Linked DNA regions of Homo sapiens. The protein of the gene in region 2 purifies or fractionates together with the protein of the main gene of each other region. This does not show direct contact. Each region holds a gene or a part of one and is shown on either strand. Other genes may lie near its edges.

What was found. Proteins that work in one complex are often made in the same cells at the same time.
Region 1: the proteins of EVI5 (region 2) and RGPD8 purify together in Homo sapiens (affinity purification with mass spectrometry; one large-scale study listed by BioGRID and IntAct). This does not show direct contact.
Region 3: the proteins of EVI5 (region 2) and APAF1 purify together in Homo sapiens (affinity purification with mass spectrometry; one large-scale study listed by BioGRID and IntAct). This does not show direct contact.
Region 4: the proteins of EVI5 (region 2) and MYO5B purify together in Homo sapiens (affinity purification with western blotting, with the first as the bait; one study listed by BioGRID). This does not show direct contact.

Annotation. Positions count from the first base shown.
Region 1 is NC_000002.12:112,392,146-112,395,645, reverse strand, and holds part of RGPD8 (RANBP2-like and GRIP domain-containing protein 8), read left to right. Parts: intron 1-892; coding exon 893-1,028; intron 1,029-2,426; coding exon of another isoform or gene 2,427-2,539; intron 2,540-3,500.
Region 2 is NC_000001.11:92,701,609-92,705,108, forward strand, and holds part of EVI5 (ecotropic viral integration site 5 protein homolog), read right to left. Parts: intron 3,137-3,500; coding exon 2,947-3,136; intron 2,314-2,946; coding exon of another isoform or gene 2,233-2,313; intron 2,225-2,232; exon of another isoform or gene 2,129-2,224; intron 2,012-2,128; coding exon 1,787-2,011; intron 608-1,786; coding exon 533-607; intron 1-532. UniProt on the Homo sapiens protein: Functions as a regulator of cell cycle progression by stabilizing the FBXO5 protein and promoting cyclin-A accumulation during interphase. May play a role in cytokinesis.
Region 3 is NC_000012.12:98,665,790-98,669,289, reverse strand, and holds part of APAF1 (apoptotic protease-activating factor 1), read right to left. Parts: coding exon 3,499-3,500; intron 3,101-3,498; coding exon 2,933-3,100; intron 1,778-2,932; coding exon 1,646-1,777; intron 1-1,645. UniProt on the Homo sapiens protein: Oligomeric Apaf-1 mediates the cytochrome c-dependent autocatalytic activation of pro-caspase-9 (Apaf-3), leading to the activation of caspase-3 and apoptosis. This activation requires ATP. Isoform 6 is less effective in inducing apoptosis.
Region 4 is NC_000018.10:50,185,148-50,188,647, forward strand, and holds part of MYO5B (unconventional myosin-Vb), read right to left. Parts: intron 1-3,500. UniProt on the Homo sapiens protein: May be involved in vesicular trafficking via its association with the CART complex. The CART complex is necessary for efficient transferrin receptor recycling but not for EGFR degradation.

The DNA of each region.
Region 1 (3,500 bases), on a different chromosome or scaffold from region 2:
ATTCTCTGCAGCTACTACTTTTTTCCCTTTCCTGGTGGAGCATTTGAACATCACCTTGAGAATTAGTTGTATTTTGTTTGAACACAGGGTTAAGTGAAAAGCTAATTTGGGGAGGTGATTTGGAATGTCAGGTAGTCCAGGTTGCAGTGTAGAAAGAACACACTGAAAGGATGGTCAGTGTAATGTTAGAGGACTGTGAAAGTTGGGGAAAGAAGTTTAGTTTGTAGGTACTTGTTTTTTTGAGCAGGGAATTGTCTTGGCTGGAGGTGAACGTCAGAAAGGTTAATGTAGGCAAGTGTAGAATGGAAATGAAGGTGTGATCATTTAGGAGGTTATTTGTTTAGGTGAGAGAGTTAATGAATTAGGTTTTGTATTAACGAATGAAAATGGGAGCAGATAAATTTTTAACAAATTAAGAATCATATTTTAAAATCAGCACCAGGTACCTAGAACTCTTTGGCAAATAGAAACTTTCAAAAGATATAATCAGGTCCGGGCGTGGTGGGTCACACCTATAATCCCAGCACTTTGGGAGGCTGAGGTGGTGGATCACTTGAGGTCAGGAGTTCAAGACTAGCCTGGCAAACATGGTGAAACCCCATCTCTACTATTATACCAAAAATTAGCCGGGCGTGCTGGCTGACGCCTGTAATCCCAGCTACTCGGGAGGCTGAGGTGGGAGAATTGCTTGAGCCCAGGAGGTGGAGGTTGCGGTGAGCCAAGATTGTGCCATTGCACTCCAGCCTGGACGACAGATCGAGACACCATCTCAAAAAAGAAAAAAAGAAAAAATCAGTTATTTAAATTTAAAAGAGTAAGTTTCCCCAGCACTGTTTCTGGCATGATATAATTAAATGATTAAAATTATTTGATTTTTTTTTTCTTCCAATAGAAAGAAATGCAGGAGTTGAAACTAAATAGCAGTAAGTCAGCATCCCGTCATCGTTGGCCCACAGAGAATTATGGACCAGACTCGGTGCCTGATGGATATCAGGGGTCACAGACATTTCATGGGGCTCCACTAACAGGTGAGCTGGCAAGTGGATAATCGCATATTTTAGTAAAACTACTTTACTTCCCTCTTTTAAGTAGATAACGTGTGAAATCACCTTGTTTATATATGTTTGTTAATATACATGTCAACGTCTGTTTATATGTGACTTCAAAAGCTGTATTAGGTGTTACGGAGATTTTTATAATCCCAAGCAGAAAAAACGAGCCGTATGTGATCACGTGTATATAAAGGCTTAAAGAACACTTAATCCACACCTCAGATGAGCTGAGATGAGATTATTCCTTAAATTGCAAAATGTTATTGAATAGAGTTATGCACTAAGAAATGCTTAATTAAGAACCTACACCTCTGGGGAATTATTTTGATGATAATGATGAGAGGCAGGACGTTATATAGGAAATCTTACTTAATTTGAAATATTATGGTTATATAAAGAAAGAAAAGGAGTTTGGACCTGAATCATACTGGGTTTTTAAGTTCTGCTCTATCACTTACTATAATAGCTGTGTAAGTTAACCTGTCTGAAATGTGGAGATAATACTTGCCTTACATAATTACTATGAGCATTTGTGTATGTGCAGGTGGGCGTGGGTGTGTATCAGACATTTATTAGAGTATACAGTAAACAGTTAATGAACTAAGGTTACTAATAGTGTTTACTGTGGGTTGGCTGTGTGCAAAAGTGCTGTGTGAATGTAATTTGATTTAATTACAGTAACTTAGAATGGCCGGCACCATTATTAATCCCTTTTTTATAAATAAGGAAATGGATAAAGAAAGGTTAGGTAACTTACTCATTATTATACAGCTAGTTATTGATAGAGCCGAGATTCACACTCCAGTGGTGTAACTCCAAAGCACTTGCCAGTATAATACATTGCTCCCAGGCAGCCAGAAATAACAAAATTGTTCCTTTTACGTACGACAGACTTCTGAAATGGTAGTAGTAGTGCCCTTTTTTTTTTTCTCTTTTTAGCCCAGGAAAGATTTAGAAAAAAATCTAGTTTAGATGAGCACATTTGTGTGATGGTTCCTATAGTTAAGGCAACCCCACTAGCCTTTTGTGATAGTATCTTCTCAACACAAGCAAAATAACAGAAAATCTTTGTGAAGTCAAGCTTATTAAATGTCGTAAGTCATAGATAAGTATATGAAATGTCTAACGTTCAAACCTTGTTTTCTTAAAACCTTACACATCATATAGGTCCTTGTAAGAGGATAAACAAACCGGCTAGCCTTTCCTGGGGCTTTTTTAGTGATGTGTGCAGTCAGTTATTTGGTGCCTTGTGGGTCATGATTTCCATTTCTTCTGTGTACAGGCATAAAAGGTCTTCTGTTCTTATACAAGCATGTAAATCCAACATTCTCATTGTCTCATTTTATTCTTGCAATGACCCTGTGAAATGTGTAGAAGCAGCACATCGTCATTTTACAATTGAGAAACATGGAGACTCCAAATGGATTATTTACAGGTTCACAAAACAGCTTTGTGGCACTGAAAGGGCGAGAGCCAAGATCTCCTGATTTCTGTTCCTGTGTTCATAGATTCTTTTTCCTTAATAAAAGTAAACATATATCAAGATGGTCCTTGTTTTTTTAAAATAAGATGATTAAAATTAAAGATTAATGAGCTCATAGGAGATACTCAGAAGTACTGAACAGGGTGAAGAAAACTAAAAGCTAACCACCTTATTAACATTTCTTATATTTGAGAGCATTTCCTTCTGGTTCTTTCTCTATACATATAGTATTTTTTATGAGATTGTTACCATGTTACTATGTTGTGTGTAGATGAGCTAGCCTGTTTTTAAAATGTTACTTTAGTTCTGAGCATTTTTAAACTTAAATGTTTTTTGAATATTAATGAGTTCATGGTATCCCATCACATGGAAGTACTGTAAATTCTGTTCCTTTATTTATGTTGTTTCTGGTTTATGCCATTACAAATTCTAGGACACTGTCCTAGTTTTGTAGGGTATTCAAAATATTCAGTTTATGCTCTTACCGCTAGTATCTGATAGTGCCATTTTCGCACTTTTGCTAATGCTGACTTACTAGTTTATAAAATCCTTTGCCAATTTGTAGGAACAAAAGTGATATCAATTTTTAAGTTTTTTTAATACTAGTCATGCTCAACAATTCATGCAAATGGCAGTTGGTAGTTTTGCCATCTTCAACGTACCTTCCAGTTGTTTGGTTTCTTGGTAAAACTCACACAAAACAGATGGAGAAGAGTTTTTGTATATCAACATGAATGTTAATGTGATTTTTTTAAAGCCAACGAACACATTTGTGTTCCTTGTGAGATCCTGTGCGTGAATTTGTCAGGTAATTTTTTTGACCTGAACATTCTCATAATAGCTTCAATTTGCACAATGCAACCTCGTCATTTTGCAGATTTTCAAGGCTCACTTCAAAAACATGTTCCTTGAGGCCTATTAACATTTCTTTCCTAAATTGTCTATTCATATGGTGCTTTAAAAAA
Region 2 (3,500 bases):
ATTCTGAAAACATTCCACCCAAACCCACTGCACACTCAATAACAAAGTTATATCCCTAGGGGGTAAAAGTGGCTGAGTACCACTATTTTAGGGCATGCAGTGAGGTATGCATAACAAGCTTTTAGCTCCATGATAAATTAAATTCTCTATAAATCTCTAAAGATGTTGTACAATATAAATAAGATTTTCTTACCAACACTTTAATTATTTCCTCCTTGGTTAGAAAAAGATTACTCTTCATTAAATGTTAACAAATAAGATTTTAAACTACTGTAGATTCAAGCTTTAGTAGAATATTACAGTAAAAATGTATCTATCATGAAGTTGAAATTTCATTTGGTGGTAAGATATTACTATGTTATTTTAACATGTTTAATCTTTTAAAATGCAAACTAAATATTTGTATTCAAATTATGCCTAGGAAAAAATACCCATATCCACTTACATTTAATAAAACAAAGATGCTTTTTAAACTCTCCAATCCAACTTAATAAAAAATTTCATTGGACATTTAATACTTATATTAACTTACCTGCATAAGCAACAATCCAACTATAAAAGCACTTCCTTGACAGTAACCAACCTCACGATCTACTAAAGAGTAAGCCTAAAAAGTAAAAAAAAGTTGTTCAAAATACATGGTAAGTTATACCTTCCTTCTCCAAAAAACCTAAAATTGGCAAGACAGACAGATTAAAAAACATTTATTTTTGAGAAAAGCTCTTGCTTGCTTGTTATAGATGTTATCCTATACATATTTAAAAAGCAAATGTTTTATTACATGAAATTTTATTTTGACAATTTCCCAATCCAAACTTGCTAGCTCTAAAGACATAAAATAAAATAAAATAAAATAAAATAAAATAAAATAAAATAAAGGAATTTGTAACAGGGCTTAAAAATCAAGTAAAATTGAGCTGGGCACAGTGGCTCATGCCTATAATCCCAGCACTTTGGGAGGCAGAGGCAGGCGGATCACCTGAGGCCAGGAGTTCGAGATCAGCCTGGCCAACATAGTGAAACCCTGTCTCTACTAAAAATACAAAAATTAGCTGGGCGTAGTGGCGGGCGCATGTAATCCCAGCTACTAGGGAGGCTGAGGCAGGAGAATTGCTTGAACCTGGGAGGTGGAGGTTGCAGTGAGCTGAGATCACACCGCTGCACTCCAGCCTGGGCAAAAAGAGTGCAACTCCATCTCAAAAAAAAAAAAAAAAATTCAAGTAAAATTTATATTGATGTATATAAAACTAGACTAGGTTTAAGGCAAAGGATTGGCGAAATTGAAATGATTTAACAAGAAGTCAGTATTTCAAAGAAGTAGCTAAAAGAAAAAGTAACTGTGGGAAGGGAAATGGCAATATTGAAGAAAAAATGACAATGGTACACCTTTCAAGGGCTAAGTGCTCTTAACAGTGCTGGCCATAGAAAGCAGAAAAATTTGCTCACTGTAGGAACACAGATATGATAGGAGAAACCCACATCCCAGGTTTTGAACTTCACAGATGGTGAATTATTCCTTTTCATGAGGATCCCTCTATGATATGTGACTTTTAAGCTATTCCATTTCCATCAACTAATGCTAAATAACGTAGTAAATGTTCTAACAAGTTCTCTATACTAGATAGTAATGTAGCATAAGAATTAAGGCAAAAATGATGCTAAAACCAATTTCACTGCCAAAGCAACTGATTATTGTGGTGGGAGGTCATGCTTCATCATGAAAAATGTATAATTTCAACCTTCCAGGAATTCATTTCATTTCAAAAAATGAATAAATAAAACTTACCTTCATTACATTAAATAAAACCTCCTGTCCAAGGCTATCTTTTTCCTTAAAAAAGTTGTGTTCAGGGTAAGTTCTAGCAATGTCCCTTCGGATCAATTTTTCACAAGGCGAGGTCATTTTCAGGAGTTCTGAATACTGATCCTTAATTGGCATACTTTGTGCACTGCATAAAAGTTGCCAAACTATTGCTCTAAAGTGATGGGGTATCCCTTTATGAACAAGTTCCTAAAAATAAAATAAAATTACAAAAATGAATTATTTAAGTGTCCTATCTTGCAAGCCAAGGAAGACTTATTAGGGGGTTGGAATGAAGTAGAAGACATCATTAAATTTGTAACTCACAAAGCTAGCTTTATAATAAGACTAGGGAACCCTGTAAGTCAAGGGTAAGATTGGGCCCTGGGTGTATCCTCTTCTGGTCAGGGGATTAATAATGATCATTTCACCTCAGTGTGTGACCTCTTAAGGTAATGGACTTGAAACCTGCAGAGCTGTGAATGATGGTACAGTACCCAACATTCAAAGGGCTGTTGAAGGCAAAAAAAAAAAAAAAAAGGAAAATACTGTTATTCAAGAATGCAGGATATCACAACTTCATTTCTGAATCAATAAAATGAGAGAATTTAATTTCTAAAACAATTTTCGGGCCGGGTGTAGTAGCTCACAACACTTGGAGAGGCGGAGGTAGGAAGACTGCTTGAGGCCAGGAGTTTGAGACCAGCCTGGGCAACAAAGCAAGACCCTATCTCTACAAAAAGGAAAATAAAAAATTAGCGAGGTGTGGTGACACACACCTGTAATCATAGCTACTCAGGAGCCTGAGGCAGGAGAACAGCTTAAGCCCAGAAATTCGAGGTTATAGTGAGCTATGACTGCATCACTGCACTCCAGCCTGAGCAACAAAGTGAGTCTTTATAAAATAATAATAAGTAAATAAAATAATTTTCAGTTATATATTTCTATATGATCAGGACCTCTGTAACAACTGATGTCTACAAATTAAAACTTTTAGGGGTACAAGTAAGTGAAAACAAATAAAGCAGACCTCTTTAATATATAGCTTGGAAGTTGTATTTGGGGTTTTTTTCCCAATCCTCTATTAAGTTATGTCTGACGCACTATGGAATAAGAATAAGAACTTCAACAAAGAACATGAATACCTTAACTTGCTTTTCCTTCTTTTTGCGTACATCTTCCCATTCATTAACAATTCTTCCCCAAAGAATCCAAGAATCTTCTTCAAGGTGACTGAGGTTGCTAGAGGCTGATGAACTCGACACAAGAGAAGAGCCACTGTTTCTTCTTGACCCATTTACAGATCTTAAAGACTTACTATCCGTTTCTAACAATCTAAAATATAATTAAAAACTGTTCAAGATCTAATCGGACAGTGATATTAGAAGAGGCATTGATGATACTTAGAGCTTTATTACTGCAATTTAACCATTGTTTTAAAATATAGTTTTAATAATATACATAATTTAAATAAATTTTGGTCACATCAATAAAATTACTGCTATATTTTTTTCACCTATTATAGCAGTTTGAAAATTTGAAAAAGCAAATTACGTTAAAAATTTTTGAGCTACTAGCCCCATTATAATTTCCCTTCGTCTCCATTAAAAATTCAAATTAGGGGAAATCTGATGAGAAAAGTATTTGGGTAGGCTTCAGGAAAAAAGAACTTATACTTGGAAGAGGTACAACAAATCTA
Region 3 (3,500 bases), on a different chromosome or scaffold from region 2:
AAAAAGATGCATTGGCTCAGTAATTCTACTTCTCGGAATTTGCCAAGGAAACAACATAGGTACAAAGATAAACAAGAATGCTCATTACATCATAAGGACCAAAAAAACTGAAAACCTAAATGTTCGATAACTAGAGTTTGGTTAAGTAAATTAGGGCACAAGTATTTATTGGAATACCATCATTCCAATATACACTATTAAATGTAAATATATTTTGCTAGATAAAAAAACAAACTACAACAATTTACTATGTATCATAACCAAGAAATAACATACCTGAGCATAGAAAATTTACTGAAAGTACATATGGTTTTCCAAATGTAAACATTTTTAGTAGCTACTTGGTAGTCATGACTTCAATCAAATACCATCTATGTGCTAATAATTCCTTATTTTCATCTTTCATCTATAATTCTCCCCAGAATTCTAGACTCATATATCTAACTGCCTATTCAATATTTCCAGCCAGATGCCTTAATAGGTATATCAGACTTAATATATCCAAAATGAGTTCTTAACCATCCCCATTCTCTGCAGGAAAAAGCTTGTTCTCCCAAAGACCCCTGTTTCAGTTCATGGACTCCGTTCTTTCCACTGGGGTTTGAGTCATCTTTGATTCTTGGAGTCATCTTTGATTCTTCTCTTTCTCGTATAATGCATACCAAACCCATAAGCAAATCATGATGATTCTACCCCTCTATCATCACTTTCTTTCCCCTTCCATGCTCTGTCCTTCTTCTGAGCACTTAACTACCCACTGAAATATAATAAATTTGTTTAATGTCTGCCTCCTCCCAGAACATAAACTCGTGAGAGCAATGACTTTGTGCCTGTGCTTTATCCTCTTAATGAAGAGCAATATACATAACAAGCACTCAATAAATATTTATTGAATCAATGAATATACTTTTCCACTATCCATTTCCTCTCAAAGCTTACAAAACAAATCCATACTGCCCAAAAAGGAAAGCTACTAGTAAGAAGAGGATTAATTCTGAGGTGGTTCATTTACTAGTTACTAAGGTACCTTTTCTAATCACTACAGGTAAAAACAAAAATAATTATGCAAGCTATAATCCCATTTTTACTAATAAAAAATTATACTAATAAAACAATACATGTTTATGAACAGGACAGCAAAGCAAAATACCAAACAACGACGACAACAACAGTGGTAAATTTAACTACATAAAAATTCAAATCTTCAGCCAGCCGCGGTGGCTCATGCCTGTACTCCTAACACTTTGGGAGGCTGAAGCGAGTGGATCACTTGAGCTCACGTCAAGCTCAGGAGTTTGAGACCAGCCTGAGCAACATAGTGAAACCCCATCTCCACCAAAAATACAAAAATATTAGCCAGGCATGGTGGCATGTGCCTATAGTCCCAGCTACATGGGGGGCTGAAGTGGGAGGATCACTTGAGCCCAGGAGGTGAGGGTGTAATGAGCTGAGATTGTGCCACTGCACTCCAGCCTGAGAAACAAAGTGAGACCCTGTCTCAAAAAAAAAAAAAAAAAAAAAAAATCAAATGGAAAGCAATATGAACAAAATTCAAGACAAAAAATAACAGAAAAAAAGCACTTATTTGTAATACATATGGAAAAAGGGAAGTCAGATAAAAGAATTTTTAAATGGGTCATCTTACCTTGTGCATCTTGGCACTGGCCATGTGATAGGCCAGAAAGTTGTACCAATACATACAGTCTTCCTGATCTGGTGAAAGAGTATGCGGCTGGTGATATCTCTGAAACTGAGTGATTATCTTCTTATGTAGATCCTGCAACCCAATGAAACGTTTCAGAAGCCAGAAACAATTTTATAACCTAAGCATCACAGTAACTTCAGCTTCCAAAGCTATTAAGAATGTACAGAGAGGCCGGGCTCGGTGGCTCACGCCTGTAATCCCAGCACTTTGGGAGGCCAAGGTAGGAGGATCACTTGAGGCCAGGACTTCGAGACTAGCCTGGGCAACATAGAGAGATATCCGTATATTTAATTTTTTTACAAAAAATAAAAAATAAAAAAAATCAGTCAGGTGTGGTGGCATATGCCTGCAGACCCAACTACTCGGGAATTAGCTACTCAGGACCAACCGAGCCCAGGAGTTTAAGATTGCAGTGAGCCACTGCATGCCAGCCTGGGCAACACAGTAAGACCCTGTCTCAAAAAAAAAAAAATACATATATATATACAGAGAATCTCCCCACAAAATAATGACTTTACAGTGCAGAAACCTGGCAGATACCACTTTAAACAAATTATCAACATTAACATCACCCATAATAAAACATATCAACACCAGGAGTCTGGGAATAGTGGCTCATACCTACAATCTCAGCACTTTGGGAGGCCAAGACAGGTGGATCACTTGAGCCCAGGAGTTCAAGAACAGCCTGGGCAACATGGCAAAACACTATCTCTACAAAAAATTTTTTAAAAACCACCAAGTACTCTCAGCCTATGACGCCACTGAGAAAGATACAACATCATTGGTATTCTTGCCAAATATCTATAACTTCAATCTAGTCAGGAAAAACATCACACAAAACCAAATTTGGGTATACTGTACAAAATTACTAGCCAGTACTCTTCAAAGGTGACAAGGCCATGAAAGATAAAGACTGATAAATTTTCACAGATTTGAGGAGACGGAAAAAAATGACAAGTAGGGAAACAAGACAATCATATGCAATACGGGATCCTAAATTGGCCTGGACTACAAAAAGAACACGTAGGTTAGTGAACAGTATTGTATCAATGTTAATTTTCTGGCTTTAACAACTGTACTATGGTTATATAAAATGTTAATATTAGGGGAAGCTAGGTGAAGGACTTATGCACAGAAACTATCTACTATTTTGTAAATTTTCAATAAATCTAAAATTATTTCAAAGGAAAAAGGAAAAAAAAAAGTAAACCAAGATGCAAGTACCTGAAGCTGGCTGCAATTCTTCTCTGTAAGAAAATCTACTTGAAGATCATGTAAATAATAACGAAACGACTTTCCATTCCGATCACAGAATAAAAGAGACTTATTTACAAACTCCTGCAGTATGTCTTCAACTTCTTCAGTTTCCATGTCCCAGAGAATACATAACACCTAGGAATTGTTGTAAGTATTTAATATGCCACAAAAGTACAATGACCAGGACTGTAGACAGGTATTATCACACACACAAAAAAACGGTATCTTAAAGCCCTGAGTAAGAATGTCTCCATTTCTTAAGAAGAAACTCAGCTACTCCTCAAGATAGAAAAGAGAAAGAGAAGTCAGATGCTTCTTCAGCTGCACTAGAACCACAGAAATAGGTTAACTCCTGAGTTCAACACAAAGCCCTTAATGGAAGCTAACAGCAGAGGGATTTCTACACCCAACACCCCACCACCTCAGTCCCCTGGGTCTTATCCTTCCAAGGTTCTCTGTAACAACATGCTCAGTACTATATCAAAGCTTACATGCAATAAATACCCAATGATGAGGATCATTGATCCCATTACCT
Region 4 (3,500 bases), on a different chromosome or scaffold from region 2:
AAACAAGAAATATAAGGAAAACAACACATTGTTCCCAGTGATCAATAATGTAGAGCCTACCAAGCATGTGAACAGAGGCTCAACCCTCCAATGAAAGTCAACTTTAAAACATGTGTAAAACATTTAGTATGAATAAGAATTTAAAAAAAAAAAAAGAGAGAGAGAGAGAAAGAACAATGACCCGAACTTAGAGTGGCGAAGAAACAGACTGGTTCTCTTGTGGTGGCTATTGGCCATATCAATGAAGACTATAAATGTGCATGCCAGCAATTCCAGCTTTAGGAATTTATTCTGAGAAAATAAATGAGGTTACAAGAACAATCTTTCACAGTATCAAAAGATTAACAATTTATTAGTATGTTCAAAAAAGCTAGAAGATAGGATCTTGAATGTTTCTAATGCAAAGAAATGATAAATGTTTGAGGTGGTGGATAACCTAATTGCCCGATTTAATCATTATACATTGTATACGTGTATTAAAAAAATCACTTGAACCCCATAAATTTGTGCAATTATTACTGTCAACAAAAAACAAAAGGAAAATAATTGGAACCAACCTAAATGCTCATCAGCATGGGAATGGTTAAACACATTACAGTATATGGCATCAGATCTTGGCAATTTAAAAAATGTATATTTTTAAGAAAAAATTACAGTACATCCATATGCTGCCTTGTGCAGCCATTAAAAATGGCAAAATTGCCTTTGTAGGCTACAGGAAAAGATAGCCATAGATTAAGATTTAGAGTAATAGACATGGCATGATCCCATTTGTTTTGAGTACATATTGTGCATAAGTCTAAAGCAGCACTGCCCAAGAGAAACAGAATGCAAACTACAACTGTGAGCCACCTGTGGTACTTTAAATTTTCTAATAACCACATTTAAAAGGTGAATTGAACAGAATATTTTAGCCAATATATAAATAACAATCACTTCAACACATAACCAATATAAGAAGTATGAAGGATATTTCGCATACATTTTTCTAAGTCTTGGAAACCCAGTGTGTACAGTACTGCACGCTTCCAGCTCATCCCAAGCTGGGCCAGCCTCATCGCAAGTGCTCAGCAGCCACATGCAGTTACCCTGTTGGACAACGGAGGTCCAGAGAACATGCCTAAGTGGTCAAGAGCAGCTGTTTCTGGGAATGAGACTACAGAGCTTTTGTCTTTCCTGCATTGTATGGATTGTTTCAATAATCATTTGTATTCACAGAGGGAAAACAGAAGCATTGTGAAAAATGCTTTTTAATTTTCCTTTAAAGCTATAATAAGAGACCAGAAAGCACAGGTTAAACTTAAAACTTCTTTCAGACTGCTCTTGCTCCTTCCCCAGGGGTGGTGGGGAGTACCATATCTTGTCTACCGCTCTCATAGTTCATGTTTGTAGCAATCCTACTTCCTCTTTCACCAAGTCTCCTTGTGATCAAGACCCCTTCAGGACAGCAGGGAAGGGTTAGGGGAAAAAACATGCTAGCCACATAATGCTGACTGCCACCCAGCATGGTGACTGGAGGGAGAAGCAAACTAATGAACAGTTGCCAACACTATGTTAGACAAGCACTTCACATGGATTAGGATTATAAGCCTCCAGTAACCTTCCCATGGTGCAGGTACCACCCCAATTCTTCAGATAAAGAAATCAAGGCTTAGAAAGTATCTGTTCCAATGTGTCGGAGCTGAGAGCGCCACAATATCCAGGGTGTCCACCTCAAGATCATAGTCACAAAGGCCTTGGAAATGCCCATACCAAGCTCCTGATCTTACCCTTATTAACACCATGCTATCAGACAACTGCATTTCTTCATTAAAGAAAAGCAAATCCCAGGCATCATTTGCAAGAACCCCAGATCCTGACATTTCTCCTCTAAGCTCTTTCGTAAATCTCCAAATGTAAATAAATGCTTTCACTTAGACAAACCATTTTCATCCCAAACCCAACATGTCAAAAATCAAGAATTATCCCTGCTCCAACCTGACTTCTGTCCACACTCAAGGTGGATATTTCAAGTTCATAGTTGACTCTTCTACTTCCCTTGCCCTTAATAAAACATTTATTGAGTTCTAGTCTCTGTAATTTCTACATAACTACAAAAAGTAGTAATGAGTACACCTAGCAACCAGATCTTCATTTCTAAATTCCATTCTTCAATAAAAGGAAACTGACAGGCATCAGCTTAACCAAGGGATCAAAGTGATCCGTCAGTAACAGGACACATTGATATCACTGTCTCCTGAGGTGATGCAGTGAGAAAGGCACAGCATTTATGATGTGTTCTTGCCCAAAAGTCACAACCTCCATGTAAGCATAAGACAGTCTGACAAACCCAAAATCATTCTACAAAATTATTGAGAAATGCTTTTTTTGGGGGGGTGGGCGGTGGGCAGACAGGGTCTCACTCTGTCACCCAGCCTGGAGTGCAGTGGCACAATCACAGCTCACTGCTACCTCAACTCCCAGGCTCAAGCAATCCTCCCACCTCGGCCTCCAGAGTAGCTAGGACCACAGGTGCATGCCATCACACCCAGCTAATTTTTTCTATTTTTTGTAGAGATGAGGTCTCGCTATGTTGTCCAGGCTAGTCTCGAACTCCTGGGTTTAAGGGATCCTCCCATCTTGGCCTCCCAAAGTGCTAGGATTACAGGTGTGAGTGACTGTGCCTGGCTTGACCAATGTTCTTCAAGTGTCAAGGTCATGAAAGACAAAAAACTGAGCAACTGTCACTAGAGGGGGGCAGGGAGCTACAACCCTAAAGGCAATGTGGAACCCTAAACAGGATCCTGGCCCAGAAAAAGAACATTAGTGAAAAAGGTGGTAAAATTCCGGTGAGCTTTATAGACCAGTTAGTAGTATTACAGAAATGTTAACCTCCTGGTTTCAATAATTGCACTATGGTTATATGACATGTTAACACTGGAGCAATCTGGAAAAATATAGAAACTGCACTATTTTTGCAATGTTTCTGTAAGTGTATATTTCAAAATAGTTAAAAATAGTGCTATAATTATCCCCATATACATCTAGCTCATACCTGTCCCTATGCTTAAACTCACTCTCCCCTGTCTCCTCCTGAGAGAACATCCTTCTTTACAGCCTCCTCATGCATTTCAAATCCTATTCATTCTTTAGGCCCCAGTCATGTCCCACTACACCTTAAAGGAAGCCTTTCCCGCAATACTGTAGCCCACCAGACCAACACTTCTACAAAATGCCTGTAACTTGTAGAGGAGTATGTGCACTCCTCTAATGACACACAGATAATCCTGTATTGTTAGTGTACTTTGTGTATTTAGCTTTTATCACCAAACACACTGAAGGCTCCTAAAAACATCTGGTATGGCCTCTGTTCTCCAGAATCTCAGCCTACTTAGATAAAGCATCACATAAAAACTATCAACAAGGCTGAGGTGGGTAGATCATGAGGTCAAGAGATTGAGACCATCCTGGCCAACATGGTAAAACCCCGTCTCTACTAAAAATACAAAAAGTAGCCGGGA